Linked DNA regions of Homo sapiens: region 1 is linked to region 2. Evidence: fine-mapped expression QTL. Tissue or cell type: whole blood. Region 2 holds a variant in brackets; the other region holds the start of a gene. All regions are shown on one strand. Distances are from middle to middle.

The links. PIP is the estimated chance that this variant, and not a neighbour inherited with it, causes the effect.
Region 1: it holds the start of ZNF496, and the variant in region 2 is fine-mapped to the expression of ZNF496 in whole blood (TOPMed, PIP above 0.99).

The regions. Positions count from the first base shown.
Region 1 is chr1:247,324,500-247,339,800 of GRCh38, reverse strand. It overlaps ZNF496 (zinc finger protein 496), which reads left to right and starts at 7,934. Exons shown (of 10, transcript NM_032752.3): 1 at 7,934-8,011; 2 at 8,154-8,369; 3 at 9,720-9,835; 4 at 10,186-10,612; 5 at 10,935-11,118. The coding sequence starts at 10,223. ZNF496-DT (ZNF496 divergent transcript) reads right to left here and starts at 7,747. Exons shown (of 3, transcript NR_168399.1): 1 at 6,555-7,747. LOC124904574 (a long non-coding RNA gene) reads left to right here and starts at 3,065. Exons shown (of 2, transcript XR_007067004.1): 1 at 3,065-3,347; 2 at 3,637-3,926. RefSeq lists silencers at 2,040-2,334, 5,960-6,254, 7,367-7,846, 7,977-8,086, 8,657-8,896 and enhancers at 3,488-3,988, 7,760-8,054, 10,441-10,943.
Region 2 is chr1:247,353,472-247,368,772 of GRCh38, reverse strand. The region is part of intron 1 of ZNF496-DT (ZNF496 divergent transcript); the gene reads right to left. Among named protein-coding and RNA genes, the nearest start is that of ZNF496-DT, 29 kb to the right of the region's middle. RefSeq lists enhancers at 5,595-6,139, 10,744-11,043. The variant A/C (reference allele first, on the strand shown) is at 8,573.

The DNA.
Region 1 (15,301 bases), 29 kb after region 2:
GTGAGGTATGTGCTGAGCTGGAATCAGGACACATAACAGGGTCTGGGATCCAGGATAAGGTCTGTGCTCTGAGCTGGAATCAGGACACACATCAGGGTGTGGGATCCAGGATGAGGTCTGTGCTATGCTATGAGGTGAAATCAAGATATAGGTTAGGGTTTCTAAGTGGGATTGCACAGAAAAAAATAAATCTAAGACACATTGAGGCTCCCAGACTTTTTATCAATTGGCAAATACTAGATGTGAGGAGAAAAATGTGGAGTTGTCAGAGGTGACTTGAATTTCAGAAAATGCTATGGAAAGAGTAAGGTGGCAGGAAGCTGAACAGAATTGATATTTACTTGTTTTGTTTGAGACAGGGTTTCACTCTGTTGCCCAGGCTGGAGTGCAGTGGCACAATCATAGCTCACCTCCTCGGCTCAAGTGATCTTCCTGCTTCAGCCTCCCAGGTAGCTGGAACTACAAGTATGTGCCACCTTGCCCAGCTAATTTTTAAATTTTTTGTGGAGATGGGTTCTTGCTATGTTGCCTAGGCTGGTCTCAAACTTCTGGACTCAAGTGATCCTCCTGCCTTGGTCTCTCAAAGTGCTGGGATTATAGGCATGTGTGAGCCACCACACCCAGCCAGATACTTTTTAAATTTTCCTAAGTGACATGGCATACAAGGAATAGCTGGACATAAAATTCCAGAACTGTGAGTAAGGATGTTTTCCCCCTTTACTAGATCGACCAAAACACTGTCCTACAATACCAGAGGAGTTTACTCTGGTATTTACTCACCCAAGAACCAATCACCCCATTTGAGGCCTGCAGCAAACCCTTCTTTTCTGGAAGGCAGAGTCCAAACACTACTCAGGGCTCCAACTTCCCGGGATGGTGGTGAGAATTAGGCAATACAATGCAGATAATATACCTAGCAAATGCTGAACATATTCCGTACAAAGTCTACTTCCCCATCCCTCCCTCATTCAGACACACACACATACCCCTGTAACACTGGGTCCCTGACCACTATCCTCTTTCTCTGAACATCAGTTTCCCTCCTGAAATTCCAAGGATGCTAGGATTCAATGCATTTAAGGAGCAGACAACAAAGACGATCACAAAGGATCAAACTCACATTCATGGAAACATCTGCGGAACTGTAACATCAAGGCGTTTCCCTCCTAAGAGCATCAAAACCTCTCCAGGCTGGGCGCGGTGGCTCACGCCTGTAATCCCAGCACTTTGGGAGGCCAAGGCAGGTGGATCACGAGGTCAGGAGTTCAAGACCAGCCTGACCAACATGGTGATACCTCGTCTCTACTAAAAATACAAAAATTAATCAGGCGTTGTGGTGGGCACCTGTAATCCCAGCTACTCAGGAGGCTGAGGCAGAAGAATCGCTTGAACCCAGGAGGCAGAGGTTGCAGTGAGCCGAGATGGCGCCACCGCACTCCAGCCTGGGGACAGAGCGAGACTCTCTCAAAACAACAACAACAACAGCAACAAAAACAAAAAAAAACCTCTCCAGGAGCGAATGTGAGAAAATCTACAAGATCTGTAAGGACTGAGAAAAGAGAACAGGCAGCCCTGCCTTTCATCAGGCTAAGAAGACAGACGAGTAACCCACTGTGCATTCACAGGACACGTGGTTTTCCCCAAGGTCTTGCCAAAGCTTCGAAACGCCACAACGCCCGCTTGACAGATGGACTCCTGCTTTCTAACCAAGAACGCCCTAGACCCACTTGCTGCACTCATTTATGACTGGGGGAACGCAACAACCAAGGCATCCTTGCCTCCTGACGGCCCATCACCCTCAGTGAACCCCTACTTCTTCTGAGCCCCCCTCTAAACAACAACCAGTGCAGATGCGACTCCCACTTCCCTGATACATTATCAATTATTAAAACTTCATACTTCCATGAGGCCTCAGTATCACACACAGGCTGTGAGTCCCCCAAGCAACTAGGCACACTGGTGTGATAAGCCTGGTCTCTGCCTCCAGGTCCCCTTCTTGCCTTCCCCCGACTGTGACCCAGCGACATTCCAATGCACCAGTAAAATCCCCTCATACCTTCTGCTTGTGTGCCCCACCCTGACCCCCCGACACAGGTACTTGCCCACGGGTTCTCTCTCTTTCTCGACCCCCCACCTGCACTGCAGAGCCTGGGCCCTTGGCTCTCATCCAACACGGCCCTGCACGCATGCGGTGCCTCCCTCTCCAGGACCTTGGAGCAGCATAAATCCTGTACTTTCATATCATTCTTGGACTGTAATTGCTGCAGCCACTTGGGAGTGATTCTTAAAGATCCCACAAGGGAGACTTACTCCCACACTTACATCACACCTGACATCATCCTCCTCCTCCCCTCCCCCTCTTCCTCCTTCTCCTCCTCCATCCGGAGCAAACCTCGCAAAAATACTTCTCCCATTATCAAGCCATATTCCAGCCTCCTCTGGGTGCCCTCCCCCGCTCACTGAATCAAGACGATAAATCTGGTCATTTCTGCAAATCTGAATTTGTCAAGGCACAAGCTTGTCCCTGATGGTCCAGCTGAATAAACATGAACAACCCAATGCTCAAGAATAGCTCCAAATACCAATGTTTGGGGTCTTTATTTTCTTGACTGTAGCATCCAACGCTGATTTCCAGGAAAAAGATGTCATCTCTTTAGTGACAACTTGGCCACTTAAAAGAGGTACTTTCACTGGAGCCCCTGAGAGTGGGTTATGTCAGCCTACCTGCAAATCTCAAAGTGTTTTTGCTTTCAAAAAAAGAAAAAATAAAATAGATGAACAGGCCTCTGTGACAGCTGGGAGGCCTCTATAGTGAGAAAATGTCATCATGCAAAGCTGTTTCACTGAGCAGCTTCTCACTGACCCCTTTCCACAGGCCACAATAAGGGACCAGATTAATGCCTTGCTGTCCATGCCCCCTAGATGTCTGTGACTAACACAGTAAGAACTAGCACTACTATTCCTAGGACTGTTCCTAAAGCCACAGTTTATTGAGTATCTACTATGCCCAGCTTACAACAGAGCTTCTCACATTGCAAAAAGCATGCAAGTCCCTGGTGCCTGGTTAGCCGCGCAAGCTGTGGTTGGGGCCTGTGGGTACTGACAGCTCCCAGAGAAGGCAGGTGTGGTTGGTCCAGTGATGGGGCTTCACATATTTGCACACCTGTATTTGTCATCAGTCTACAAGCATATTATGCGGAATGATGACCTCCTCTGCAGGGGGTGATGTCACAGTGGAACGGCTGCCCACCTGGGGGGCGATGTCACAGTGGAACGGCTGCCCACCTGCAAAGCACTGGGGCTTTAGGTTACACATCACATTTCCTTGTGCACACTTCACTTTCCAGGTTATATATAATTCACCCTTTCCTTTGTTATCGTCCATTCACCTTTCCACTCTGCAAGATGGCCGTCTCACGCCCTCTTCCTCCTGCTCTCACATTTCACCCTCTCTTTCTCCCTGTCACTTAAGGGCCCTGTGTAGCAGTCAGGGTTCTCCAGAGAAACGGAACAAATAGCATGTGGAGTGGGGGGAGGGAAGGGGGTGGGGATAGAGAGCTAGAGATCAATAGAGAGAGATGAGGGAGACTGTTTTCTTTTAAGGAACTGATTGGCTTGCAAGTCTAAAATCTGCAGGGCAGGCTGCAGATCCAGAAAGCCGAAGCTGCAGCAAGTCGGAAGGCGCGCCGCAGGGGGAGTTCCTTCCTCAGGAGACTGCAGTCTTTGCTCTTACGGCCTTCGACAGATTGGATGAAGCCCGCCCACGCTATGGAGGGTAACCCGCTGCATTCAAAGTCTACAGATTTAACTATTAATCATATCTAAAAAACAGCCTCACAGAAACACCAGACTGGTGTTTGAACAAAAACTGAGTACCACAGCTAGCCAAGTTGCCTCATAAAATAAAACGTCACACTTGCTCCTTATTTTACTGGAGTGTTGGCAAAGTTGGAAGAAGCCTGCCCCAGGCTCTCCCTGCCCAGATGCTGTGGACATGCCTCAGGTCCAGAGGCAGCCTTCCCTGCCCTCCGGCTCCCCGTGGGCCCTGGGTGCCAGCCCTCCCTCCTCCAGGCGATGCACTGCAATTTCTCCCATCTTTAAGATGAGACCGTTTTTCTCCACAGGGCTGTGTCCACTCTCATCTCCCTTCTCTTCCAGAAAGTGCCCTAGCCCAGGAGCTCCACTGTCTGCTTTGCTCAGGGGCCTCTCTACCAGATTCAATGGGCAGTGTTCTTTCCTCATCGGATTTGATCTTGGCGCAGGATTTATCCCCCTGACCTCTTTCTCTCCTTGAAACACAGGTGCTCACTTGGATTCCAGGGCTCCACACCTGCAATTTTCCTTTTATCTCAAGGCGGCAGCAGCTCTCCCTACCCCCTTCTCTTGCCCTCGTCCTCCCTCACTTTCCTCCTCCTACTTCCCCTTCTCTCCCTTCTCCTCCACTAACCCCTTGGGCTCCCACGGTCCAGGGCTGGCATTTCGCAGGGTCTGCCCTCCCTGGGGCTGCTTCTCAAAACACACTCAACCCTCTCAAGCCCCAGCTCCTGCTACATACGGTGACTCCAGATTTCCACCTCCAGCCACAGCTTTCTATCCCAGAGGGTCATCCCCACTTGTCTCCTGGGCATCTGAAAACCAGCAAGTCCCAAATCCACCAATTCAACCCCAAACCCAACCCCTTCCTGGAAACCTGCTTCCTTGCATCTGCCATCTCTAGAAGGCCTGTTCAGTCACCCAGTTTCAGCCCCAGTCACAGCCGTTCCTCACTCCTCTAACACAGGCAGCATGCCTTCAACACAGAGCCTGGATTGGGCCTACTGTTCACCAGCTGTGCCTCCACCAGTCAACTCCAGGAACCGAGCATCTCCTGCCGGGATCTCTACAACGATTCCTAACAGAGACTCTGCTTCATCTGTTCTGCACAGTGATCTTGATAAAATCAAGATTCCGTTAGGCCACACTCCTACTTGAAACCCTCTAATGACTATAACATCTGGTGACCTGGTTCCAGCCTCACCATTCTCTCACTATTCCTCTGCCCAGCTGAGCAAGCACACGCTGTTTCCTCTGCTGGAATACTCTTCCCACACACCTCTGCTCAGGAGCCCCCCACCTGCTCTCCACTCAAATGTCACCTCCTGACAGAGGCCCTACCTGAACATCCCCAGCACACTCTTCCCCACCATGTTGTATTTCTTTCATGACACCGATCACCAATGGCGTTATATTGCAGAATCGCTGATTTATTATTTGATTCCCCTCCCAACTCCTTGGATCATTCTTCTATGGTCTCCCCATGGATCGAATAATCATTGGCACATAGCAAACATTTCATAAAAACAGATACAATTGGCAACATTATATTCATACAAACCTAATACACGCACACACTGGGCATGATGATGGTGCAGTCCTTGAGCAGGGTTTACAGGCAGGATCCTCTTCCCGATGCTTCACCCGTGGTATCTGATACAACCCCACTTCATTCAGAGGCGAACACCTTCCCCACGGGCTCCTGTGCCCCCACCCAGCTCTATGCCATCCCTCTCCTCTCACTCACCAGCCCACCTTGCTTCGCACCGCTCCCCCTTAGGGCCTTTGCTGTCAAGGTGGTCTCCATGTGTCAAACAGGGACTCTGACCAACTACTTCATCTCAAATACCACCTTCACAGTAAGGCCTGCCTGCCCTCCTCTTTAATACCATGACTGTTACCAGCCCCTCCCCAGCACTCCTGACTTCCTGATGCCTCTCCACTTTCCTTTTTTTCTGTAGCACAGATCAAAGAGAGCAGGTCATGTTACTGATTTTGCTTCCTCCAATAGCCAGTTGTGTTCACAGATGTACCTGAGCACCTGGAAGGCTGGCTGCCTAGCACTCATGAGTGTACAGTAGGTACTCGGTATAGGTTTGCTGAATGACTGAATCTTTGATCCTGCACAACCATCCAATGAGGTAGACAGCATCATCCCTGTTTTCTGGATGAGGAAGTTGAGGTACAGAAAGGTTATGTAGGCCTGAGGTCACCTGGCTAGGAATTCATAGGGCAGGATTTAATCCGGGTGCCTGAGTCCAGAACCTTGACTCTGAAGCCCTGTTTTGAGCTAAATGCAGCAGCAGCATAAACAGCCCGTTTTGTGCCTCAAAAGGTGAACAGTGGGAGGCACAGCTGGGCAGGGACGTGTCAGGTCAGGGGAAGAAACTGAATTGGGTAGTGGGGATTAATTGGATGCTGTCTGCCAGCAATTTCTGCCTCCTGCATTTTATCTGCTTTAGGGTTGCAAGGGGCAGAGCTATGAACACGGATGCCCACTCAACAGCCAGTTCCTGGGCCAATCAAAGGGTTGGGAGCTGTAGCACCAGAGCTCTGGAACCCCACAGACTAGGATGTTTGCTAGAGCACCTAAGCCCTACCAGCCTTTGATGACCCCTCGGTTCCTCCCAATTCCTCTCCTCCATGTCACGGTTCCTGGCTGGTGTTCCTGAGAGTGGGCTGTACATGAGTTCTGTAAATGCCAGTCCAGTTACGTCAAAGGGGGTGGCTCTCACTTGTACCTGTAGGCTCCAGCTAAGATCTGCGTGGCCCTGCCCGGCATCTGGCTGTCATCCGGGAAACAATCACTGTTCACAAACAAGGGCTTCACTCCTTCGCTCGCTCCATCTCCTGCTAAAGTCAGAATGTGAACACTGACAAACAGCGGCTCCCAGTAACTCTGCTAGTCAGAAGTGATTATTCCAGCAGTTCAGAGGAGGAAGTGGCGGTGCCCAGGGCCACGGGATTAGAAGAGCAACGGAGCTAAAGGATCCCGTGCCTCAGTCCAACCACCTTGTTCCCACTTACTCAGCCGGGCCACTTTCTTTGGAGAAACTGATTTCCTTCTGCTTGCCCTTGAAAGGGGATCCGAAGGAAATCGGAGCTACCGGCAGTAGCTACCCTCCGGAAGACGGAGAATCTTCTCCACCTTCTCCTCTGCGTAGGAGAATCCAATTTCGGTGCAGAGCAGATGGCGAAGGGGCCATGGGAATCAGACCTGCTCAGGGACCGGGTTCGCACTTTCTCTCAAGCTCTGGAGCCTGAAAAATGAGCATTCCCCGGGGACGACCCATGTAAGAATTTGGGCTATATTCAGCATAGTGCAGCGGCCAGCAGCCCTGTCTCGGGGTGGGGTCCGGAGGCCCCCATTTCTGCTTGCCCCTCACTGCCACATAACCTTGGGTCAGAGTCCCTCATCCTCTCCCTCCGCCACTGTGCACAGCTGCAACCGTGTTCACTTCAGCGAGCAACGAGCCCCGTGACCCCCACTCAGGGTCAGGACTCACCGCAGCCCCTCTGCGCAAGCCCCGAGGCTCTGCGTGGCCTCCGGATGCGCGGCCTTTCCTAACCCGGGGACTCCGCACGTGGGCGCCAGGCCCGGAAGGCGCGGATGTGAGCGCTACCTTCGGCGTCCCGCAGCGGCAGGAGGGGCTGGGCGGCCCGGGCTTCGGCTGGCGGCGGGGGGGGGGTCGCAGGGGAGTCTGAAATGAGGCGGCCGACGGCGCGCGGGGCCTCCTCTCTCCGCTCCATCCCGCACCCCCAATTCCAGCTTCCATCCCCAGCCGCGACTCCCGGTCGGCCGTTCCGGGCGTCCACTGGCCGCGTGTCCTGGGGGCGCCAGAGAAGGAGAACAGCGGAGAAAAGAGCCCCGGGCCGACCTTCCGGACCGGCGGGCCCGCGGGGAAGCCCGGGCGCGGCGACGTGGCTGACCCACAAAGCCCCCGGCCCGGCGGCCAGGCCCAGGCGCGCGCGGAGCGGGGCGGGCCGGGGGTGTCGGATGTCACCCCCAGCGCACACCTCGGCCGGGGGGCGGGGGAGCGAACCACTGAGATGCGGAGACCTCCCCAGTCCTAGAGCGGAGCAGGAAGTGTCCCAGGGGAGGGAGCCGGAGGGCTCCGGCCTTTCCTTTCCTCGGCGTCCGGCGGGCTCCCGCGGCGGCCAGGCCTGCGCCGCCCGCCAACAGGGACGCGCCGCGGCGGTGAGTGCACCCCGGCTCCCGCGGCCGGCCCCGCCCCGCCCTCCTCGGCCCGCGCCCGGCCTCCGCGGCGCCGCCTCCCAGCCCAGAGCCCAGCGCTCAGGAAGGTGCGGGCGGGGGAGAAAGCAACACCATTGTTTTTCAGGCGCCTCCATTTGCCCCCGAGCCGAGCCGTGGCTTTCCGGATGATCGGGAGACGCGGTCTGGACGGGCCGGGAAAGGAGCCGGGCGCCTGCGGAGACCCCGCCTCAGCGAGTACGCCCGGCCGGGCGGGCTGGGAGGATGAGGACGGCTGCCCTGGACTTCCGCCGCCACAGGAGGGTTTTCGGCCGGACGCCGGGAGGGAGCTCCAGGCTGTGAGGTGAGGAGCCCGGAGCCGGCGAGACGGGAGACGCGCGTGTGAGGGAGACCGAGGGCGCGGAGGGCGGGCTCCCCCTTCCCTGGCCCACAGCGACCTTCTCCTTCCCTTTCTGCCGATCCAGCTCGGTCCCTCCTCCGCGAAAGGCTGGGAGCTCGCTCCGCCCCTGCGGGGCCCTCCTCCGCCTCACTCACGTTAGTTCATTCATCAGGCATCTCCTCCGAGCCTCCGACGCGCCAGGTGCCGCCGTGACAAAGACGGACGCGGCCGTCTGGTTGGAGACGATCCGAGTGGCAGCCCGGGTGGGCGCCGGTGCTCGGGGGGGCGGGCCTGAGTAGTCCTGGGCGCTGCAGGTGTGTGATGGGCGCCGCAGGGGGCCGCCGAGCAGGGCGGGCGGGGCCCACCCCGGGCTCCAGATGCCGGAGCCGCCCTGGAAGCGATCCGGTGGTGGGGAGCGCTGTAATGCGTCCAGCCCGACGCCGCCACGGCCCCCATATGGGTTTCTGTGTATGTTGTTACTTTGGAAAGCAAAGAGATTCAGAGCAGTGGGTGTTTCTGGAACCACTCAGTTGTTCCGTAGCTTTTCTGGCATCACTTGTCTTTCTGTGAAATGGGAGTGAGGCCCGAGTCCCCCTTCCCACCTTGTGAGCTGTTGGAGGTTAAGACGCGGCCACGCTGGACAACCTCGTGCAGATGGGGGAGTGGCAGGCACTGCCGGTCCTAAGGATCACAGAGGCCTGATGGCAGAGAAGGGGACTGTGAGTGTCCCCATGTGCCCTTTCACGGGCCCAGCGTTCTAAAGTGGGAATCATAAACACCAGGTATACTGGTTGCTGGTCTCTTGCCACCCTAGTTGTGGCAAAAGTGTCGGCTAGTTGTCTGCACACCAGCGGGGAGGTGTAGGGACCCCTGAGTCCCACCTTGGGGGTGTGGCAGCTGCAGTGTCCAGGGGTTCTTTGAGGGCTGAGCTGTGCAGTGACGGACCCACTTTTCTGTCCTGGCCGAGGAAGGGCTTTGGCGAGTGTGCAGTTGCCTTCAATGTGGTTTGAAGAGGGCAAGGATAGAGAATAGGGTGGAGGCGAGGTTGAAGGTCAGGGCAGAATTGGCAGAAGGCTCATAGGAAACCACTGATACTTCTAGATGCAGTGTTATTTGTCCCTGGTAGACTGCATGTAGCTGTCTCATGTGATGTTTTCCCTTGCCTCCCATTGCAGACTCTGCTGGGCAAAGCTGATTCTGGCTGGGTTGTCCATCCAGCACGCAGCACCATCAGCCCTCTGCCACCAGAAGGGTGGATTTTCCATTCCTGGATGTGCTTGAAGGCTCATCCGATGCATGTCTTTGTCATTCCAGCTCCATTTGTAAAGGTCTTAATAACAAGAACAGTGACTTCGGCTCCGGAGCTTCAAGATAGTGGCCTGCTTGGCCTGCCCATCTCGGATCTCTCCAGGAGGACCCAGCCACCCAAGGTACCAGAGCGTCTTGATTACATCTGCATGTGGCGCTGTTGGTTTCCTGGGATGCTCAAAACAGCAGTGTCACGTTGAAATGCCACCACTTTCTCCCAGATTTCCTGTCTTGTTCATCCAGTCACCCACTTAACGGGAATCCACACGTAATGGTACTGATGGGGGGAGGGCATCTTTCTGTCTGTTTCATCCTGTGTGTAAAGACCAGCCACACCAACACTCCCTACCTTTCCCAGGGCTTCTCCAAAGGGCTGGTCTCTGAGGGCATTGACAGTTTCCTTGTCACTGTCCCCCAGAAATGACCACAGGAGACCAGAACACTGAAGCCAGTGATTTCTGTTTGGAAATAGGGTCGTCTTCTGCTGCTGACCCCCATCAAATCCCATCATGCCCACAGCCCTGTGCCCCCGAGTCTTGGCTCCGAAGGAAAGTGAGGAGCCCAGGAAAATGAGGAGCCCACCTGGAGAGAACCCTAGCCCCCAGGGGGAGCTTCCCAGCCCCGAGTCCTCTCGGCGTCTCTTCCGCCGTTTCCGCTACCAGGAGGCGGCGGGCCCCCGGGAGGCCCTGCAGCGCCTCTGGGACCTGTGCGGGGGCTGGCTGCGGCCTGAGAGGCACACCAAGGAGCAGATTCTGGAGCTGCTGGTGCTGGAGCAGTTCCTGGCCATCCTGCCCCGGGAGATCCAGAGCTGGGTGCGGGCGCAGGAGCCTGAGAGCGGAGAGCAGGCTGTGGCCGCGGTGGAGGCACTGGAACGGGAGCCCGGGAGACCCTGGCAGTGGGTGAGTAGAAGAGGTGGGGCTGGGACGGGTAGAGATCTGGTACTTAGACACTTTGGCTGGGCCATGCATGTGCTGGCTGGGGAATGAGGAGTTCCATCGAGAGCCATTTACTTTGGTTAGGTCCAGACTAGAGTTTCCTAAGAAAGCCAGTTTTACTCCCTGAAGGCTCTAATTTGGGCATGATAGTGTCGTGCCCCTTTACAGCCCAGTCCAAGGCCTAAGTTGAGCCTTTGATGGTCAGCTGTGGAGTGGATGGTCACCAGGCCCAGGGAGAGATGGGACCTCTTCCCCTAGCCCTGAAAAGCTGTCTCTGGGATTGCAGCTCAAGCACTGTGAAGACCCTGTGGTGATTGATGATGGGGACAGCCCTCTGGACCAGGAGCAGGAGCAGCTGCCGGTAGAGCCCCACAGCGACCTTGCAAAGAACCAGGATGCCCAGCCCATAACCCTGGCACAGTGCCTGGGGCTCCCAAGCAGACCACCAAGCCAGCTCAGCGGGGACCCAGGTATGCAGCCCAGGGGAGTGTAGCAGGGGTGATCTGGGGAAGTGCACACCCCATACTGTGCACTGGGTGTGGTTTTTGTTAAGCTGATGGCTTTTACATCAGCAGTGTTCTCGTGTCCCCGAGGTGCTGTGAGCTGTTGTCAGGGTCTGAGTCCCTTCCTAGAGCAATTAAATGAGAACCTCATCAGGATGTTTGTCCTCTTCATGGTTCTAGAGCCTCTCAGAGCTAACGCTTCTGTAGGTGGGTGTCACTGAGGTGGTGCCCTCTCATCTCTTCGAGGGTGCATCTCTGCAGGATTTGTCAGTTTGATGACAGCTGGGGACTGCCAGTGTACAGCTGGGGCCTGCTGCATGACTGGAGCATGGCCATTTCTTGTCTCTTGGAACCTCTGTTTCCTTGGCTAAACAACTCCTGTTTACAGGAGTATTGTGATGCTGCGAAGAGATGTAGAAATACTTAGGAGGACACAGGGTGGTGTCTAGTGTGTGGGGCCAGAACATCAGCTACACATAGTTTGAGTATGTATATGAAGTACATGGTAGCTACAGGAAAGTAGTTTTTTCATCAGATAAACTTAGATTTGAATCTTCTGGTTATGACCTGAGGCATGTTTCTAAACTCTGAAAGCCTCAGTTTCTTCCTCTGTCCAGCAGAGATAGTAATTACCTTTTTTGGGGTTTTTGGACAATTAAATGAGATACAACCTACAAAAGGTTGAACACAAGGCCTGAGGTGCCCAAAACTTTAAGTACATATCATGGGAAACCAGCGCCCTTGGGTTGAAGGAAGTCTGGCCCGTGGGTTCCTCTGGGTGGACTTGCCACGGTGCTTTATATGTACAGTGGAAAGAGAGTGTCTGGGGGGCCAGGGGGGCTTTCTTATGACTCTGGGTGGACTTGCCATAGTGCTCTATAGGTACAATGGAAAGAGAGTGTCTGGGGGGCCAGGGGAGACTTTCTTATGACTTGCAGAAGTTGTGTTTGGCATTATGATAAGCTTTTCAGTAATAAAACCAAAATGCCTATTAAATTTCTGTGTGTGGAAAAACTATATTGACTTCTGTACAAATCACATAAACTCTTCAGCCTTTTCTTGCTTATAAATCAAGTTTGGTGTGTTGTTGGCTGCCATAACAAAGTACCACAGACTGGATGCCTTATGTAACAGAAATGTATTCTCTCACAGTTCAGGAGGCTGGAAGTCTGAAGTCAATGTATCAGCAGCCTTGGGTTCTTCTGAAGCCTCTCTCCTTGGCTTGTAGACATGCCTAATGTTAACACTAAGAGAAGTTTGCAGATAGACATTTAGAAGGAGCTAGGGGTTGGGCGCGGTGGCTCACGCCTGTAATCCCAGCACTTTGGGAGGCCAAGGCGGGCGGATCACCTGAGGTCAGGAGTTCGAGACCAGCCTGGCCAAGATGGTGAAACCCCATCGCTACTAAAAATACAAAATTAGTTGTGTGTGGTGGTGGGTGCCTATAATTCCAGCTTTTCGGGAGGCTGAGGCAGGAGAATCACTTGAACCTGGGAGGCGGAGATTGCAGTGAGCTGAGATCACGCCATTGCATTCCAGCCTGGGTAAAAACAGTAAAACTCCATCTCAAAACAAAACAAAAAAAAAGGAGCTAGGAGGGGAAGTCTCTTATGCCACTGGCTCTCTTTGGGACCCGTAAAAACCCATGAATATCCGGCCCTGAAAGCTGACAACAAGCTTTGTGCCAGGACTCTTGATGACGGGCGGTTTTCTTTCAGGGAAAGGAAGAGGAAGATGTTTACACTAAGAGAAGTTTGCAGAGCAGGTGTAACAGACACCTTCTCTCTCTGGGTCTCTTTATGTGGTCTTTCCTTTGTGTGTGTCTGTGTCTTAATCTCCTCTTCTTATAAGTACACCAGTCCTATTGGATTAGGGCCCACCCATATGACCTGATTTTATCTTAATGACCTCTTTAAAGACCCTATCTCCAAATACTCAGTCGCATTCTGAGGTACCTAAGGGTTAGGGCTTCAACATAGGAATTTGAGAGGGCCATAACTTAGCCTGTAACAACAGGTATAAGGGAAGCAGCCAGTCGCCCACATAATGCACGTGCAAGTAGCTTGGGTTATGCAGGAAGTGGGGGGCTGTGAGAGGCCTTGTAGTGGGGTCTGGGAAGGCATGCAGGTGGAGAGGAAGAAGTTTCAGGAACTACAGTAGCCTGTGCAGTTGCTTCTTGATAAAGTTCTGAGATAAGCCAGCAACCACAGATGGGCTTTAGGAAAACAGGGCCAGCTCTCCCATTTCCATGAGCAATAATCAATAGGCAAAGTAGGTATGATGAGAGTTAGCAATCAGGAAAACCTTAACTATTGGGACAGTTCATCATTGGAATGCACTACCTATCAGAGCTGTATAGTTCCTCATCTTGAAGATCTTCCCCAAAAGCTAGATTTTGTGTAGGGTCTGCAACTCTCCGAAGTGATTCTTGAAAGGGTCCATGTATTCATTTATCGGGGCCAAAAGTAGGGTGGGACTACATATTCATATATATATATATATATGTGTGTATATATATATATGTATGTATATATATGTGTGTGTATATATATGTGTGTGTATATATGTGTGTGTGTGTGTATATATGTGTGTGTGTGTGTATATATATATATGCGTGTGTATATATATATATACATATGTCTCAGCCTCCCAAAGTGTTGGGATTACAGGCGTGAGCCACTGTGCCCGGCCAACATGATTTTAAACTTGGAGAAGGGAGGGCTAGGGATGGGAAGGAGTTAGCCAGGTTACCCAGTTAGGGGGCATCTCCATTCATATATATATGAATATCTGGGATAGCTACATATCCCAGAAGGTGGCAGGTGTGAGGAAGCAGAACTAAAACACCACCTCCTAGCCAGGCATGGTGGCTCATGCCTATAGTTCCAGCTACTCAGGGGGCTGAAGCAGGAGGATTGCTTGAGGCCAGGAGTTTGAGACCAGCCTGGGCAACATAGCGAGAACCCACCTCTAAAAAATAAAACACCCCCTCTGGGAGACATCGGTCAAAGAGTACAAAGTTTCCGTTAGGTAAGATGAATAAATTCTGGAGATCTATGGTACAGCATGGTGAGGTTGATGAAAAATAATGCATCTTATACTTGAAAATTGCTAAGAAAGTAAATAAGAAATGTTCTCGTCACAAAAATATATGAGGTATAGATTTGTTAATTAGCTTAATTTAATCATTTCACAATGTATAGTTATCACATTGTACAGTTTTCGTATACAAAATACATACAATTTTTGTCAATTATAGCTTAATAAAACTGGGAGGTAAAAGTAAGTTAAATAAAGATGAAGATAGAAACTTAAAATGGAACATACACACAGAAAAATACCACCTCCTCAAATCTACGCCCATCCAGCCTGAGCTTCCCCTTCAGACACAGTGAAGAGGCTGCCTTCCACTGAGACCCCTAGAATGGCACTGCCATCTGTGTGGGCTCCTGGCCCCGTCCTTTGTTCCACATAGCCACTCCTGCAGCTGCTGTTTCCTGCAGGCTTTGTATTCCAGGTCTGAAAGGCCAGGGACACTGGCCTCTGGGGTTTGCTTTGATAATGACTTAACATGTGACCTGGGGTTAACCAGTAGACTATAGCACAGCTCTCCAAGTCTTAATCTGAGAAAGGAGTACCTTTTGAAACAGAGCTCATTTTTACATGGCTGCACTGTTGGCAGGGGATGTGGCTCATGGCAGAAGCCTGAACAAAGGGTAGTTTCCAATTCCAGGAGAGAAGAGTGGCAGAGTCCCTGGTAGCCCAAAATAAGGCTGGTGAGATGGTCCCAAAGCCACACTTTACATTTTGTATGAGGGTCTTTAGGACACTGTGTCAAATGCTCTTTCAGGAGTACCTACAGTGGTAACAGTTTTTCTTTTTTGTTTAATTTCTGTCTTCAAATTGACAAAAAAAAATTGTATGTATTTACAGTGTACAGTGTAATGTTTTGATATCTATACACATTGTGAAATGATTAAACCAAGCTACTTAGCTGGGCATGGTGGCACACCTGTAGTCCCAGCTACTCAGGAGGCTGAGGTGGGAGGATCCCTTGAGCTCAGGAGTTCTGTTCCAGCCTAGGCAACCTAGTGAGACCAGTCTCTTAAAAAAAAAAAAAGTCAAGCTAATTAATATAATGCATTACCTC
Region 2 (15,301 bases):
ATGGAAAGAAAGAATTTATTTATTTATTTAGAATCAGCTCTGTTGCCCAGGCTGGAGTGCAGCGGGACAGTCATGGCTCACTGCAGACTTAACCTCCTGGACTCGAGGGATCCTCCTGCCTCAGCTTCCTGTGTAGCTGGGACCATAGGTGCACTCCACCATTCCCTGCTAACTTTTTGATTTTTTTGTAGAGATGGAGTCTCAGTTGTTGAGGCTGGCCTCAAACTCCTGTGTTACTGGAAAGGGGTCCCAATCTAGACCCCAAGAGAGGGTTACTGGACCTCCCACAAGAAAGAATACAGGGCGAGTCCATAGAGTAAAGTAAAAGCAAGTTTATTAGGGAAGTAAAAGAAACAAAAGAATGGCTACTGCATAGGTACAGCCGTGGTGTGAGCTGCTCAACCGAGTATACCTACAGTTATTTCTTGATTGTATGCTAAACAAGGGGTGAATTATTCATGAGTTTTCCGGGAAAGAGGACTGGATTTCCAGGAACTGAGGGTTCCTCCCCACTTTCAGACCATATAGGGTAACTTCTGGATGTTGCCATGGTATTTGTAAACTGTGGTGGTGCTGGTGGGAGTGTCTTTTAACACGCTAATGCCTTATAATAAGTATCACATAATGAGCAGTGAGGATTACCAGAGGTCACTTTCATCAGCATCCTGGTTCTGGTGGGTTTTGGCCGGCTTCTTTACCACATCCTGCTTTATCAGTGGGGTTGTTGTGACCTGTATCTTGTGCTGACCTCCTAACTCATCCTGTGACTAAGAATGCCTAAGCTCCTGGGAGCCCAGCAGTTCTCAGCTTTTTTTTACCCAGCCCATCTTCAAGATGGAGTCCCTCTTGTTCAAATATATCTGACATCTGGACTCAAGGAATCCTCCTGCCTTGGCCTCCCAAAGTACTGGAATTACAGGGTGAGCCACTGCACCCAGCCAAGAAAAGCATTTATACAGGCTAATTTTAGACACACAAACGCTGGTTTATTTTTGGTATGACTATTTCATGTTGTCTGATCTTTTTCCTTTCAGAAACATTCTTTTTTTTCCTGTGTCTCTGTCTTGCTGTCATAAAGATTCCCTCTCATCTTGCTTAATATCTTTTATGTCAGGCTCTCAAGAGCCTGACTTGTGACCAAGTGGGGAGCACTCTTGCTTGGTCTCTACCAACCCGGGGAGTGGTTGGGGGAGTGGCATGACTTTTGGGACTTTTGGGTCATGTGTGTTGGTCAGTTGTATTAGTCCATTTTCACTCTGCTTACAAAGACATACCCAAGACTGGGAAGAAAAAGAGGTTTAATTGGACTTACAGTTCCACATGGGCTGGGGAAGCCTCAGAATCATGGCAAAGGGCAAAAGCCACTTCTTACATGGCAGCAGCAAGAGAAAATGAGGAAGAAGCAAAAGTAGAAACCCCTGATAAATCCATCAGATCTTGTGAGACTTATTCACTATCACGAGAATAGCATTGAAAAGACCAGCCCCCGTGATTCAATTACTTCCCCTTGGGTCCCTCCCACAACATGTGGGAAATCTGAGAGGTACAATTCAAGTTAAGATTTGGGTAGAGGCATGGCAAAACCATATCATTCCACCCCTGGTGGCTCCAAATCTCATGTCCTCACATTTCAAAACCAATCATGCCTTCCCAACAGTCCCCCAAAGTCTTAACTCATTTCAGCATTAACCCAAAAGTCCATAGTCCAAAGCCTCATCTGAGAAAAGGAAAGTCCCTTCCACCTATGAGCCTGTAAAATCAAAAGTCAACTGGTTACTTCCTAGATACAATGGGGGTACTGGTATTGGGTGAATACAGCCGTTCCAAATGGGGGAAATTGGCCAAAACAAAGGGGTTACAGGGCCCATTCAAGTCTGAAATCCAGCAAGGCAGTCAAATTTTAAAGCTCCCAAAATGATCTCCTTTGACTCCAGGTCTCACATCCAGGTCACACTACTGCAAGTGGTGGGTTCCCATGGTCTTGGGCAGCTCTGCCTCTGTGGCTTTGCAGGATACAGCCTCCCTCCCGGCTGCTTTCATAGGATGGTGTTGAGTGTCTGCAGCTTTTCCAGGTGCATGGTGGAAGGTGTTGGTGGATCTAGCATTCTGAGGTCTGGAGGATGGTAGCCCTTTTCTCACAGCTTCACTAGGTGGTGCCCCAGTAGGGACTCTGTGTGGGGGCTCCCACCCCACATTTCCCTTCTGCATTGCCCTAGCATAGGTTCTCCATCGGGGCCCCACCCCTGCAGCAAACTTCTGCCTGGGCATCCAGGCATTTCCATATGCCCTTTGAAATCTAGGCAGAGGTTCTCAAACCTCAATTCTTGACTTCTGTGCACCCACAGGCTCAACACCACATGGAAGCTGCCAAAGCTTGGGGCTTCCACCCTCTTCTACCCTCTGAAGCCACAGCCTGAGCTGTACATTGGTCTCTTTCAGCTGGGACACAGGGCACCAAGTCCCCAGGCTGCACACAGCCTGGAGACACTGGGCCTAGCCCACAAAACCACTTTTTCCTCTGGGCCTCCAGGCCTGTGATGGGAGGGGCTGCCATAAAGGTCTCTGACATGGCCTGGAGACATTTTCCCCATGGTCTTGGGGATTAACATTAGGCTCCTTGCTACTTACTTGCAAATTTCTGTAGCCAGCTTGAATTTCTCCCCAGAAAATGGGTTTTTCTTTTCTCTTACATTGTCAGGCCACGAATTTTCCAAACTTTCATGCTCTGTTTCCCTTTTAAAACTGAAGGCTTTTAGCAGCACCCAAGTCACCTCTGGAATGCTTTGCTGCTTAGAAATTTTTTCCATCAGATACCCTAAACCATCTCTCTCAAGTTCAAAGTTCCACAAATCTCTAGGGCAGGGGCAAAGTGCCTTCATTCTCTTTGCTAAAACATAACAAGAGTCAGCCAGACTCGGTGGCTCACGCCTGTAATCCCTGCACTTTGGGAGGCCAACGTGGGTGGATCACCTGAGGTCAGGAGTTTGAAAACAGCCTGGCTAACATGGCAAAACACAGTCTCTACTAAAAATAGAAAAATTAGCGGGGAATGGTGGCGCACACCTGTAATCCCAGGTACTCGGGAGGCAGAGGCAGGAGAATTGCTTGAACTTAGGAGGCGGAGGTTGCAGTGAGCCGAGATGGCACCACTGCACTCCAGTCTGGGCAACAGCCAGTTCCCAACAAGTTCCTCATCTCCATCTGAGACCACATCAGCCTAGACCTTATTGTTCATATCACTATCAGTACTTTCGTCAAAGCCATTCAACAAGTCTCTAGGTAGTTCCAAACTTTCCCACATTTTCCTGCTTCTTCTGAGCCCTCCAACCTCTGCCTGTTACCCAGTTCCAAAGTTGCTTCCACATTTTCAGGCATCTTTTCAGCAATGCCCCCCTCTACTGGTACCAATTTACTATATTAGTCTGTTTTCATGCTGCTTACAAAGACATACCCGAGACTGAGAAGAAAAAGAGATTTAATAGGACTTACAGTTCCGCATGGTTGGGGAGGCCTCAGAATCATGGCGGAGGGCGAAAGGCATGTCTTCCATGGCGGCGGCAAGAGAAAATGAGGAAGAAACAGAAGCAGAAACCCCTGATAAACCCATCAGATCCCATGAGACTTATTCACTATCATGAGAATAGCATGGGAAAGACCAGCCCCCTATGATTCAATTACCTCCCCCTGGGTCCCTCCCACAATACGTGGGAAATCTGGGGGATACAATTCAAGTGGAGATTTGGGTGGGGGCACAGCCAAACCACATCACCAGTCTAAAAAGACTGGGAACCCCCTGACAAGTAAGATACTAAGCAGCACACTCTGCTCTGAATGTGCCGAGCACTCAAGGTCATTTGTATTAAGTCCCATACATAAGGGACTTTTGTCATGGCAATGCTTGTTTGTCCCTGTTAGTCCTGGGAAAGTCCAATCACAGGAGTTATCACAGATTAACAGGTCTGTGGCTGGCAGCCTCTCACAAATTTGTGGGATACTTAAGGCACCCCATGAGTAAACACCATCCTTAGCTGTCTATGGCAGCAAGCCTCTTGCTAGCTTAGCCTATTTCTTTTTTGAGACAGAGTCTCGCTCTGTCACCAGGCTGGAGTGCAGTGGCATGATCTCGGCTCACTGCAACCTCTGCCTCCCAGGTTCAAGTGATTCTCCTGCCTCAATCTCCTAAGTAGCTGGGATTACAGGCATGCGCCACCACATCTGGCTAATTTTTTGTTATTTTCAGTAGAGATGGGGTTTCACCATGTTGGCCAGGCTGGTCTTGAACTCCTGACCTCAGGTGACCTACCTGCCTCAGCCTCCCAAAGTGCTAGGATACAGGTGTGAGCCACCAGGCCCGGCTATCTTAGCCTATTTCTGAGAATGTGTTTTTTGGGAAGGATCATAGGAGGGGGTGCATCTTCTGCACTCATTTTATTTTATTTATTTTATTTTATTTTTTGAGATAGAGTCTCGCTCTGTCTCCCAGGCTGGAGTGCAGTGGCATGATCTCGGCTCACTGTAAACTCCGCCTCCTGGGTTCACGCCATTCTCCTGCCTCAGCCTCCCGAGTAGCTGGGACTACAGGCGCCTGCCACCATGCCCAGCTGATTTTTTGTACTTTTAGTAGAGATGGGGTTTCACCATGTTAGCCAATATGGTCTCGATCTCCTGACCTTGTGATCCGCCTGCTTCGGCCTCCCAAATTGCTGGGATTACAGGCGTGAGCCACCGCACCCGGCCCATTCATTTTAAATACACCACAAACACCTATGCTCTTCTAAACCTGGAAAGCTACCTCCAGAACTTTCCATAAAAAAATGATTATTGGTTTGAGTCACTTATGGAATAAATAAATTGGCTGGAATCAACCTAGGTGCCCATCAACAGTGGATTGGATAAAATGTGGTACGTATACACTACGGAATACGACACAGCCATAAAAAGCAACAAAACTGTGTTCTTTGCAGCAATGTGGATGCAGCTGGAGGCCATTATCTTAAGTGAACTAACGCAGAAACAGAAAATCAAATACTGCATGTTCTCACATTTTTTTTCTTTTTTTTGAGACGGAGTTTCACTCTTGTTACCCAGGCTGGAGTACAATGGTGTGATCTCGGCTCACTGCAACCTCGGCCTCCCAGGTTCAAGTGATTCTCCTGCCTCAGCCTCCCAACTAGCTGGGACTACAGGCATGCGCCACTACGCCTGGCTAGTTTTGTATTTTTAGTAGAGACAAGGTTTCTCCATGTTGGTCAGGCTGGTCTTGAACTCCCAATCTCAGGTGATCCGCCTGCCTTTGCCTCCCAAAGTGCTGGGATTACAGGCGTGAGCCACCGCACCCGGCCACATTCTCACTTATAAGCGGAAGCTAAACGTTGGATACACATGGACATAAAGATGGAAACAATAGTCACTGGGACCTGCTAGAGCAGGGAGAGTAGGAAAGTAGGAGAGTGAGAGAGGGGAGAGGAGAAGGGGAGAGTGAGAGAGGGGGAGAGGAGAAGGGGAGAGAGAGAGAGGGGGAGAGGAGAAGGGGAGAGTGAGAGAGGGGAGAGGAGAAGGGGAGAGTGAGAGAGGGGAGAGGAGAAGGGGAGAGTGAGAGAGGGGGAGAGGAGAAGGGGAGAGAGAGAGAGGGGGAGAGGAGAAGGGGAGAGGTGGAGGGAGAGGGGGACAAGAGTTGAAAAAGTACCTATCGGGTACTATCCTCACTACCTGGGTGAAAGGATGCTTTGCACCCCAAACCTCAGCATCATGCAATATACCCATGTAACAAATCCACACATGTATCCCCTGAATCTAAAATAAAAGTTGAAATTTTGAAAAAACATAATAAATAAGTTAAAAAGTTATATTTTAAAAGAAAACTTTTTAGAGAGCTCTTGTCTCTTTTTTTTTTTTTTTTGAGACAAGGTCTCACTCTGTCGCCCAGGCTGGACTGCAGTGGCGCAATCTCTGCTCACTGCAACTTCAGCCTCCCGGGTTCAAGCAATTCTCCTGCCTCAGCCTCCCCAGTGGCTGAGATTACAGGTGCGCACCACTATGCCCAGGTAATTTTTTTTTTTTTTTTTTTGTATTTTTAGTGGAGACAGGGTTTCACCATCTTGGCTAGCTGGCCTCGAACTGCTGACCTCAGGTGATCCATCTGCCTCAGCCTCCCAAAGTGCTGGGATTACAGATGTGAGCCACCGCGCCCGGCCACTAAGAGCTCTTGTCTTAAACAGCTTTCTTATTGGTACCTATGAAAAGACACAAAAGGAATATATAGCCTTAGAAACTCCCTTAGCAGGATTTCTTTTTTTAAGGCAGAAATCAGATTTACAACTAAGTTATAAATCCTTTGTGTAGCTGGATTCACTGATTTATGCCTGTAATCCCAACACTTCGGGAGGTCAAGGAAGGCTTGCTTGAGCCTAGGAGTTTGAGAACAGACTGGGCAACATAGGGAGATCCCATCTCTACAAAATAAATAAACAAATAAATGAGTCAGGCATCGTGACACACGCCTGTGGTCCCAGCTACTCAGCCAGGGGTAGGCAGGAGGACTGCTTGAGCCTAGGAGGTTGAGGCTGCAGTAAACCATGAGCACACCACACTGCACGCCAGCCTGGGTGACAGAACGAGACTTTGTCTCAAACAAATATATATATATGATATAAAAAATATATATTTCTAACATGTATATGTTATATATGTATAATATATATCACATATAATATATATGTCACATATATAATATATATATCACATATATAATATATATGTCACATATATAATATATATGTCACATATATATATATATATATATATATATATATATATATATATATATATAGTGCGCCCAAGCTGCCTGTTTTGGATCCCCCTGGGATTTACAAAGAAGACGGGCCACCCTAATCTAGGGCCTGGGTTCCATGCTTTCACCACCACAGCCTGGATTTGATTCCCAGTCAGGAAACCAGACTCTTGGAAATGCAAATCTTTTAACTCAGGACAAAACAAATAGAAACATTTGTAAAAAGTTAGTTTGGTATTTGCATAACTCTGACCTTTTGGGGTACCCTTTCACTTTGCAATCCTGTCTATTCCCACAGACAGCTTTTGACTTCCCATCTTACAAACTGCCATGCAATCTTCCGTCTGTGGGAGATACGGGTTGTCAGGCCTTTGTGTGCAGTCAGCCAGCTGAGAGGCTGAAACCCTAGATAATATGGCCAGACAGTAGCCCCATTTGCAGCTACTAAAATTCTCCTTTATTTGAGCTGCCTGGAGTGGTCTGGATCTGAGCAGGGTTGCAACTTTTGCCTCCTCTCTGGAGACCTTGGTGAAAGCCGTGAAAGGCTTCTTGGTTCTGGTCTCCTTGGTGCTTATTTCACTTGGCGTTGAGTCATTTGTTCAGGTATACCTTTGATAGAAAACTGGTTTGTATTTAGAGTGTGATAGCAACTTTTTTCTTTTGTCTCGCTTCCTCCCGTGGGCAGAAGAGACGTGTGTCTCCCACCACTGCTGGGAAGCTGAAGAGAGGCAGGGCTCCTCCCATGAGCAGAGCGGGTGGGAGCGCTCCACAGCCGAAATTCTTTCCACTCCAGTGTTAGGCCACGTGCTCATGAAACAGAAAGCTTGCTGCTTGTGTATTTTCAACACACCCTTCTGCTTTTTCTTTTTTCTTTTAGTTTTTGGGGGATTTTTCCCTGGCAGATATATAGAGCAATGCTTTTTCTCTTTGGATCCTGTTCCTACCCTGGGAATTCTTTTCAGTCAACTGAAATTTTGTTAAAAAGCAATTTTATGTTCCTTCCATCTGTTCACTTTTTTGTTGTTGTTGTTGTCGGCATGATTTTTACTGAGAAAAATGTAAAACATCCTTGGCCTTTTTGGGAAGTTTAAAATCTTCCCAAATTGAGCCCTCTAAGAATTGTTTTCCCATTTACTGTTGGCCCTTCTTCCTTTCTGCCACCTTCAATAACACACGAAGAAATCAAGAGGGAACTTCTAGCAGTCCTGAGACCCCTTGAGAAACCAGAAAAAGGTGCCATACACCCTCCTTTTGGGGGTCTTTTGTCTTCCTCACGGAGCCCCAAGGGTCATGGGCAGGTTACTCTCAAGTCTAAAGCGCCGCAGTCTTTTGCATTGAGTTCCCTGATATTTTCATTTTTTTGAGACACAGTCTGTCTCTGTCACCTAGGCAGGGGTGCAGTGGTGCATTTGTGAGAAACACACTCACCCATCCAAACCCAAAGAATGGACTTAGAGGCACAAAGAACAGCGAAAGGGAGACTTTTCATAACGGTCTTGCGAGATCGGGTGTCTGGTGAGCAGGCACAACCAGGGCGGTCACAACGGGTAATTTATGTCCTAGCACACAAGTCCCTCCCCCAGTTCCTCACTGGTTGAGTACTGTGGGGTTACAATCTTCCCGGACATCGCCTAACTTTCATTATCCCCCTTACAAAGTTATACCCCGTCCTCTTCCCCACTTAAGTTTTGATTTCCCCATAACAAAACTTTCTTCCCTTTTATGAGCTGACCACACCTCTACATTCTGTCCACTTACTGTGACCTTCTGGGTGCATGAGCC[A/C]TGTGGTTTCTTACATTTGCAGGCTGGCTGCCAGTGCTTAGACTTATCATGCCTTGCAAATGGACCATTTAAAAGGTTTTCTCACCAATTCCCTCCTCTTTTCTATTTACTTATTTTGTTCTCATTTTCTTTTAAACCCTTTTGGGCCGTGAATCGCTCCAGAAGTTGTTTACTTTCTTCCTCATAGGAGAGTGAGTTTAATTTGCTTTCTAATAGTGGCAGGTTATTTTGCTGGTAAGTCATGGGCATTTGTTTATTAATAGCTGTTTTAATTAATTTCTGTGCTAGTCCCCTCACACAAGGGATAATACAACATTCCACTGCTATTAAGAATCCTGCCACAATTATGAGAGATATAAGGATTGAAGCTACCATTCCTTTCCATTTTCCAAATCAGCCTTCTAGCCAACCCGTAAATGGGTCATTAATTCCGAGCATTTCTTCCAGTTCGTTGGCTAGAGTTGTTAGTCCTTGTAAAGCTTTTGTGATGGTCCCATTTGGGGCAGTATTGCTGGGAATGAAAGTACAAAATTTCCCGCCCAGCATAACACACACGCTCCCTTTTTCTCTAGTATCATGTCTAGCGCAAGTCTGTTTTCCCAGGCCATTTAGCTGGTGGCATCTAACTGGCTAGCCACCCTTTGAGGGCATCCCAAGTATAATTGATGAATTCCTGTTGATTATAATAGATGGAGTTAATTTAATTCGCATTCTTCTTAATAGTTGACCAGCAGAAGTGTCCTGACTTTAAACCCAGCACCTACTGCGTTTCAGGCCTTCAATTTATTAGGCAACCCTACCCCCACCAGGGTCTCCTATTGAGTCAACATACACATTGGGATTAAAAGAATTTGTGAAATCTCTCTGGTTTCAGTGGCCATGTGTATTTTGGGGTATCTTATGGGATGCCAGGGTGAAGGGAATGGCCAATGAGACTAAAGCACAAGTCCTGGTCCCATTGGACAGTAACAGGTTACGTAGGTTCCTTTTCCCATAATACTACCAGACATCAGCCCGGGGTGTATGGAGAGCTGAGTAATTGCCATTGCTCAACTCACCAGTGACGTTTAGGATGTGGGTACAAGTTGAGAGTTCTCCCATAGGCTTATGGAACTCTGCCCCCTGTCTAGAGAGGCAAGAGGAGTAGTTCATGTTCTCTGCAGAGAACGAGGGTATTGCTCTGGGATCTGAGCTCCGCAATGCAGGAAACAGCAATGAAAGACTCTTACAAGTCTTACTTCTCCTTACTTATATCATTGTGCTGGTATGCAGCCAACATGCAACACATTCCTCTAGAATCACTATTCCATCCCAGGGGAAACGGAACCACCTGCGCCTGAGGTGGTCCTGCAGCACACGCGTAGCAGTTACTTTTGCTGAGGGCTTGTACCGAAAATATGACCCATTTGACCCAGGCATTCACATCCCTATACCCTGTCTCAATTTCTAAGGTTTGCCTTAAATCCTTTACCTCAATTATTGTTACCATTTTAGGGTTAATATTTGGTAGACTAAAGTGTTTATTAGGGTCTGGGGTTGGAGTAGTTCCAGGCAAATGGGAGGTTGAGTTCTTGATTAGCCTGAGATCAAATCGACCTGGGGGTCTTTCCTTGTGATGTCTTCTCCTAACCCATATACCTGAGATGCTACTTTTGGTTCTTGGTCTAGAAAGGCTGAATTGTCAAGGGTGATGAGTATAGGATGGCATTCTAAATTCTGGCAGTTATTTGGTGGGGAGCGCTTGGACAGAGGTAGTTTATGCTTCAAGGGTTTCCAGTTTGGAGTTACCCACACCATGTTTACTGTCCAACCCTGAAATTGGGTAGCGCACCATACATCCTCCCAGCTGGGGAAGGGTGATGCCCTACTGCAACCTGCATCTGGTTCAAGGCAAAGAGATTTATCTGCCTGCGAGAGCTGTCTCTGATTTTCTAAATTCCCACAAGGTAAAACCTGACAGGCATCAAATCTTATAGTTTGGGGTGCTACCGTCTTAATCATATTAATCACCAACCTGATTGAGCAGTGGGGAGTCCCCTGCCAGTTTCCATTTTGACCTTCTGCTCTTTGTATACTAACCCATCCCAGCCTTATTACCTTTCAGAAATGCAGCCAGCCCACGCTTTCTTTCTAAATTTTTCTCAGAGTTAACTTTAAGTGTTCGTCAGGTGACCCATGCACTTCCCACTGTTCTTTCTCCTTCCCTTTCCAGGTCTCTTTTACCGGCCTCTTGATTCCAGTGTAGTGAGTCCACCCCCATTCAGCTGTTCGCAGGGCTGTCTCAGGGGCAGAGGCACTTGACAGGGACCTTCCCAGCTTGGGTGGAGCTTGTCTTCTTTCCAAATCTTAGTCAGCACCAAGTTGCCAGGCTGGAAGTAGTGAACCATGAACTCAAGAGGCAGAGCTTGCGTCAGAAGACCTTTTAACCTGAGGGATGACAGGGTGGAAGATATGGCCAGTATATCATTTCTTAAGAATTGGTTTTTGGTTTCCATAGTGGGAGGATCTGTAGCCCTGCCCAAATATGGGAGTCCATATAATAACTTGTAGGGGACAATCCCAAGTCTTTTCTGGGGACTGTCCGAATCCTAATCCTAAAGCCATGGGAGATATTTGGTCCAAGGCACTTTAGTTTCTAAGTTTAGTTTGGTGAGATGCTTTTTGAGAGTTTGGTTTATTCTTTTTACCTTTCCACAGGATGCCAAGGGGTGGGATAATCCCATCAAATTTGTAAACCTTCCATAATTCCCCTTAACACTCTTGAAATAGCTTCCTTTCTAATCTCGTGCGGTTCAAAGAAATCACTTCTCTTTTAACAAAGGGTAGCCTGAAAGTTCAGGCTATAAACTACAGATAAACAACTTAAGCATAGAAGGAGGCGGGGGATGTCTCCTGGGTAAACACCAAACTTCACACTCCCACAGTCGGGCCCAGTATAAACAGTGGGCCTTAATAAGCACATTCCTTTCCCTTTAGGCACATTAAGATAGGGAAGCTAAAGCTGACTGGGATGGGGGGGCGGTGGGAGATGCCTGCAGCTGCAAAAAGATGGCTGGGAATAGACACAGAATCTCTCCCTCCCAGATAAGCAACACAAAGAATTAGAGTATTGGCCAGGCACAGGCTCAAGCGTGTAATCCCAGTACTTTGGGAGGCTGAGGCGGGTGGATTACCTGAGGTCAGGAGTTCCAGACCAGCCTGGCCAATGTGGTGAAAGCCCATCTCTACTAAAACTACAAAAAGAAATTTGCTGGGTGTGGTGGCACGCACCCAGCTACTCAGGAGGCTGAGGCAGAAGAATTGCTTGAACCCGGGAGGTGGAGGGTGCAGTGAGCTGAGATCATGCCATTGCACTCCAGCCTGGATGACAAGAGTGAAACTCCATCTCAAAAAAAAAAGTATTATATGGTGACATGCAGGGTTCTAACAGTCCATTTTTAATTAATCCCTCTATTACTGGTTGGAGATCTTTTCTCCCTTCAACAGAAATGGGATATTGTTTTCTGCAAACTCCTCCTGGTTGTTTTAGTCCAATCTGTAAGGCTGTGATTCTTAAGTGTCCCCGCTTGCCTTTCCCAAACCACAAAACGGGACTAATTTTTCTTCCCTCCTCCTCTGTTAGGAGGCCCATCCTTACTTTCATTTGTCCTTTCTGTGTATCCCTAATCCTAAACTGAATCTCACAATCAGGTCTCTACCCACTAGGTTAGTTCCTGCTTCAGGAATATATAAGAGTGACCCCTCAATGTGTTCTGGTCCCAGTCTAATTAACATTGTCTTGAATATCAGAACCTGTAATCCCTCCCCTTTTACGCCTAATACTTTCAGTTTTTCCTTAGAGAGTTCTGTACCCTTTGGTTTGTGGATTAGGGAGGAGTGAGCTGCCCCAGTGTCAACCAAAAATGTCACTTCTTCTCCCTAAGGTCCCGCCTTCCAATTTATCAAGGGTTCTTGGTGGGACCTACTCAGAAGGAAGCCCTGACCCCCATTGTATTCATCAACGGTCATGAGGGGGATCATCTCTTCTTCTTTTTTCCATTGAGGACATTCTCTCTTAAGATGCCCTGGCTTTCCACACTTGTAACATCTAGCCACTCATAGTCTTAGGAGGTTTCCCCTGCATTTCCTTTCTTTCTCTGTGTCGAAATCTATCATTCCCTTGTCTCATTTGAGGGGGATCTTGAGCTAATCTTTTTTTGGCTACCTCTTCCACAGTGGAAATCATGATGTTCCCTTTCTGTTTCTGCTTCTCTTCCCCTCTTTTCACAAAGACCTTCTGAGCTTCACTCAGTAATTCCTCAATCGGTTTCTCATTCCATCCATCAATCTTTTGTAATTTTTTTTTTTGTAATGTCAAGCCAGCTTTTAGTAACAAAGTTAATCTGCAACAGGCCTTGCCCTACTGGGTCCTCCGGATCTAATCTGGAGTATTTTCTCATCTCTGAGCCTCTGCAGGAATGTGAAGGGAGTTTTCTCTTTTTCTTGTTGAATCTCAAATGCCTTTGAGACATTTTGTGTCCTAGGAGTGTACTCTTTGATCCCTTGAATTACTAGTTTCCTGAGGTCCTGCATTTGGGCCCAGTCCCTGGGATCATTATTATCCCATTCGGGATCAACATTTGGAAATTTTTGTTTGGCTGGCAAGTCTCACTGCCCAGGAGGGTGTTGCTTCTCCCCACTGGTCATGGCCACTCTCCTAATCATTCCCCTTTCTTCTCCCGTGAACAGGATATTCATGATAGACATCATTTCAGCCCAAGTGTAAAAGCTGGGTCCTAGGAATTGGTCCAGCTGGTCTGCTAAACCCAGGGGATCTTCTAGGAGTGGTTTCATTTCCTTCTTGCAATTCCTAACTTCAGTACTTGCAAGAGGAGTGTTTACAAAGCCAATCTCTCCCTGTCCCATGGGAACTTCCCTAAGAGGGAACATGCTAGATGCCTGCTGTGTGGAAGGGATAGGGAAGTTCTCAATATCCCTCTTACACTCTTGTAATTCTTTTCTTAAATTTGGATAAGGATTTAAAGGAGCAGTTGGCTTGGCTCCCCTGTAGTCTCTGGGTCTTTCTTCCTCTAACCCTCCTGCTGCCCCTTGATCTTCCTGTCCCCTTTTTTGTGAGACGTATGAAGGGGCAAGCACGATAGGGGGTCCCAGGGCTTTTCACTGGGTGAGGGCTCTTCACCAGGCTCTTTTTCTTCTTTTTTGAGGGGGATCATGGGGGCTAATTCCTTGATTCAGCAGAGAGTAACCTATCTCTTCTTGTGAGGATGAAGTTTTATTATTCACAGAGAGAATTAAAGCTTAGAACACAATCCTCATCTGAGCCAAACTTAGGCCAAAAGACAGAAGGCTTATGAATGGGGTCTTTGGGCCAGACAAAACAGCAATACTTTATCATCTTTTCCTTTTCCTTGTCCCTGGTTCGAGGGTTGTTCCACCAAACCTGCAACAATCTCCCCAAAGGACTATCCAGGGGAATGTCAGACGGAGTCTCTTTGGCTCCCTCTTTCCTTTGGCTCCCAGGCCTAGAATTCCTGTTTCCCATTTTCTGCCAGTCTCTGCGTCTGAGTTTTTCCCTGTCTACTCAACCCCCCTTACTGGAGGTTTCTTGCACACCCCGAGACCTCCAAAAATGCCCCATGACCAAGGCAGTACTTACAGTCCAATTTTCCTTCCTTGGCTGGTGCATGAGTTTGCCTGGTTCCCGCAGTGCCTGCTTTTCTCCCTGTGTTGCTTCTGCTGCCTCCTGAATAATAGTCTTGGGTTTGTTTATGCCTTCTATGGGAAGCTGGGATGCCCAGATAGAGCGGGCCACCTAAATCAGGTGGGACACATCTCCCCTCTCGGCCAAAGTCCCACTTCACACAGGCACATGGATCCCAGATGGGCCCCCATGCTTGTGAGAAACACACTCACCTGTCCAAATCCAGAGAATGGACTTAGAGGCCTGAAGAACAGTGAAAAGGAGACATTTAGTAACGGTCTTGCAAGATCAGGTGTCTGGTGGGCAGGCACAACTGGGGCAGTCACAACAGGTAATTTATCTTCTAGCACACAAGTCCCTCCGCTAGTTCTTCATTGGTCGAGTACTATGGGGTTACGATCTTCCCGGATGTCATCTAAGTTTCATTGTCCTCCTTGTAAGGTTATACCCCAGTCTCCTTCCCTGCTTAAGTTTCTTCTTTCTTTTTCTTTTCTTTTCTTTTTCTTTTGAGACAGAATCTCACTCTGTCACCCCGGCTGGAGTGCAATGGCACAATCTTGGCAAACTGTAACCTCTGCCTCCTGGGTTCAAGCAATTCTCCTGCCTCAGCCTCCTGAGTAGCTGGGATTGCAGGCGCTTGCCACTACACCTGGCTAATTTTTGTATTTTTAGTAGAGATGGGGTTTCACCATGTTGGCCAGGCTAGTCTCGAACTCCTGACCTCAGGTGATCCACCTGCCTCAGCCTTCCGAGATGCTGGGATTACAGGTGTGAGCCACTGCGCCCAGCTCCCACTTAAGTTTTGATTTCCCTATAACGAAACTTTCTTCCCTTTTATGGACTGACCCCTTCTCTACATTCTGTTTGCTTATTGTGACCTTCTGGGTGCATGAGCCATGTGGTTTGTTACATTTACAGACTGGCTGCCAGTGCTTAGATTTATCAGGCCTTGAAAATGGACCAGTGAAAATGTTTTCTCACACAATTGAAGCAGGATATTTCCTTGACCCTTTTGTGGGCAGAAACCG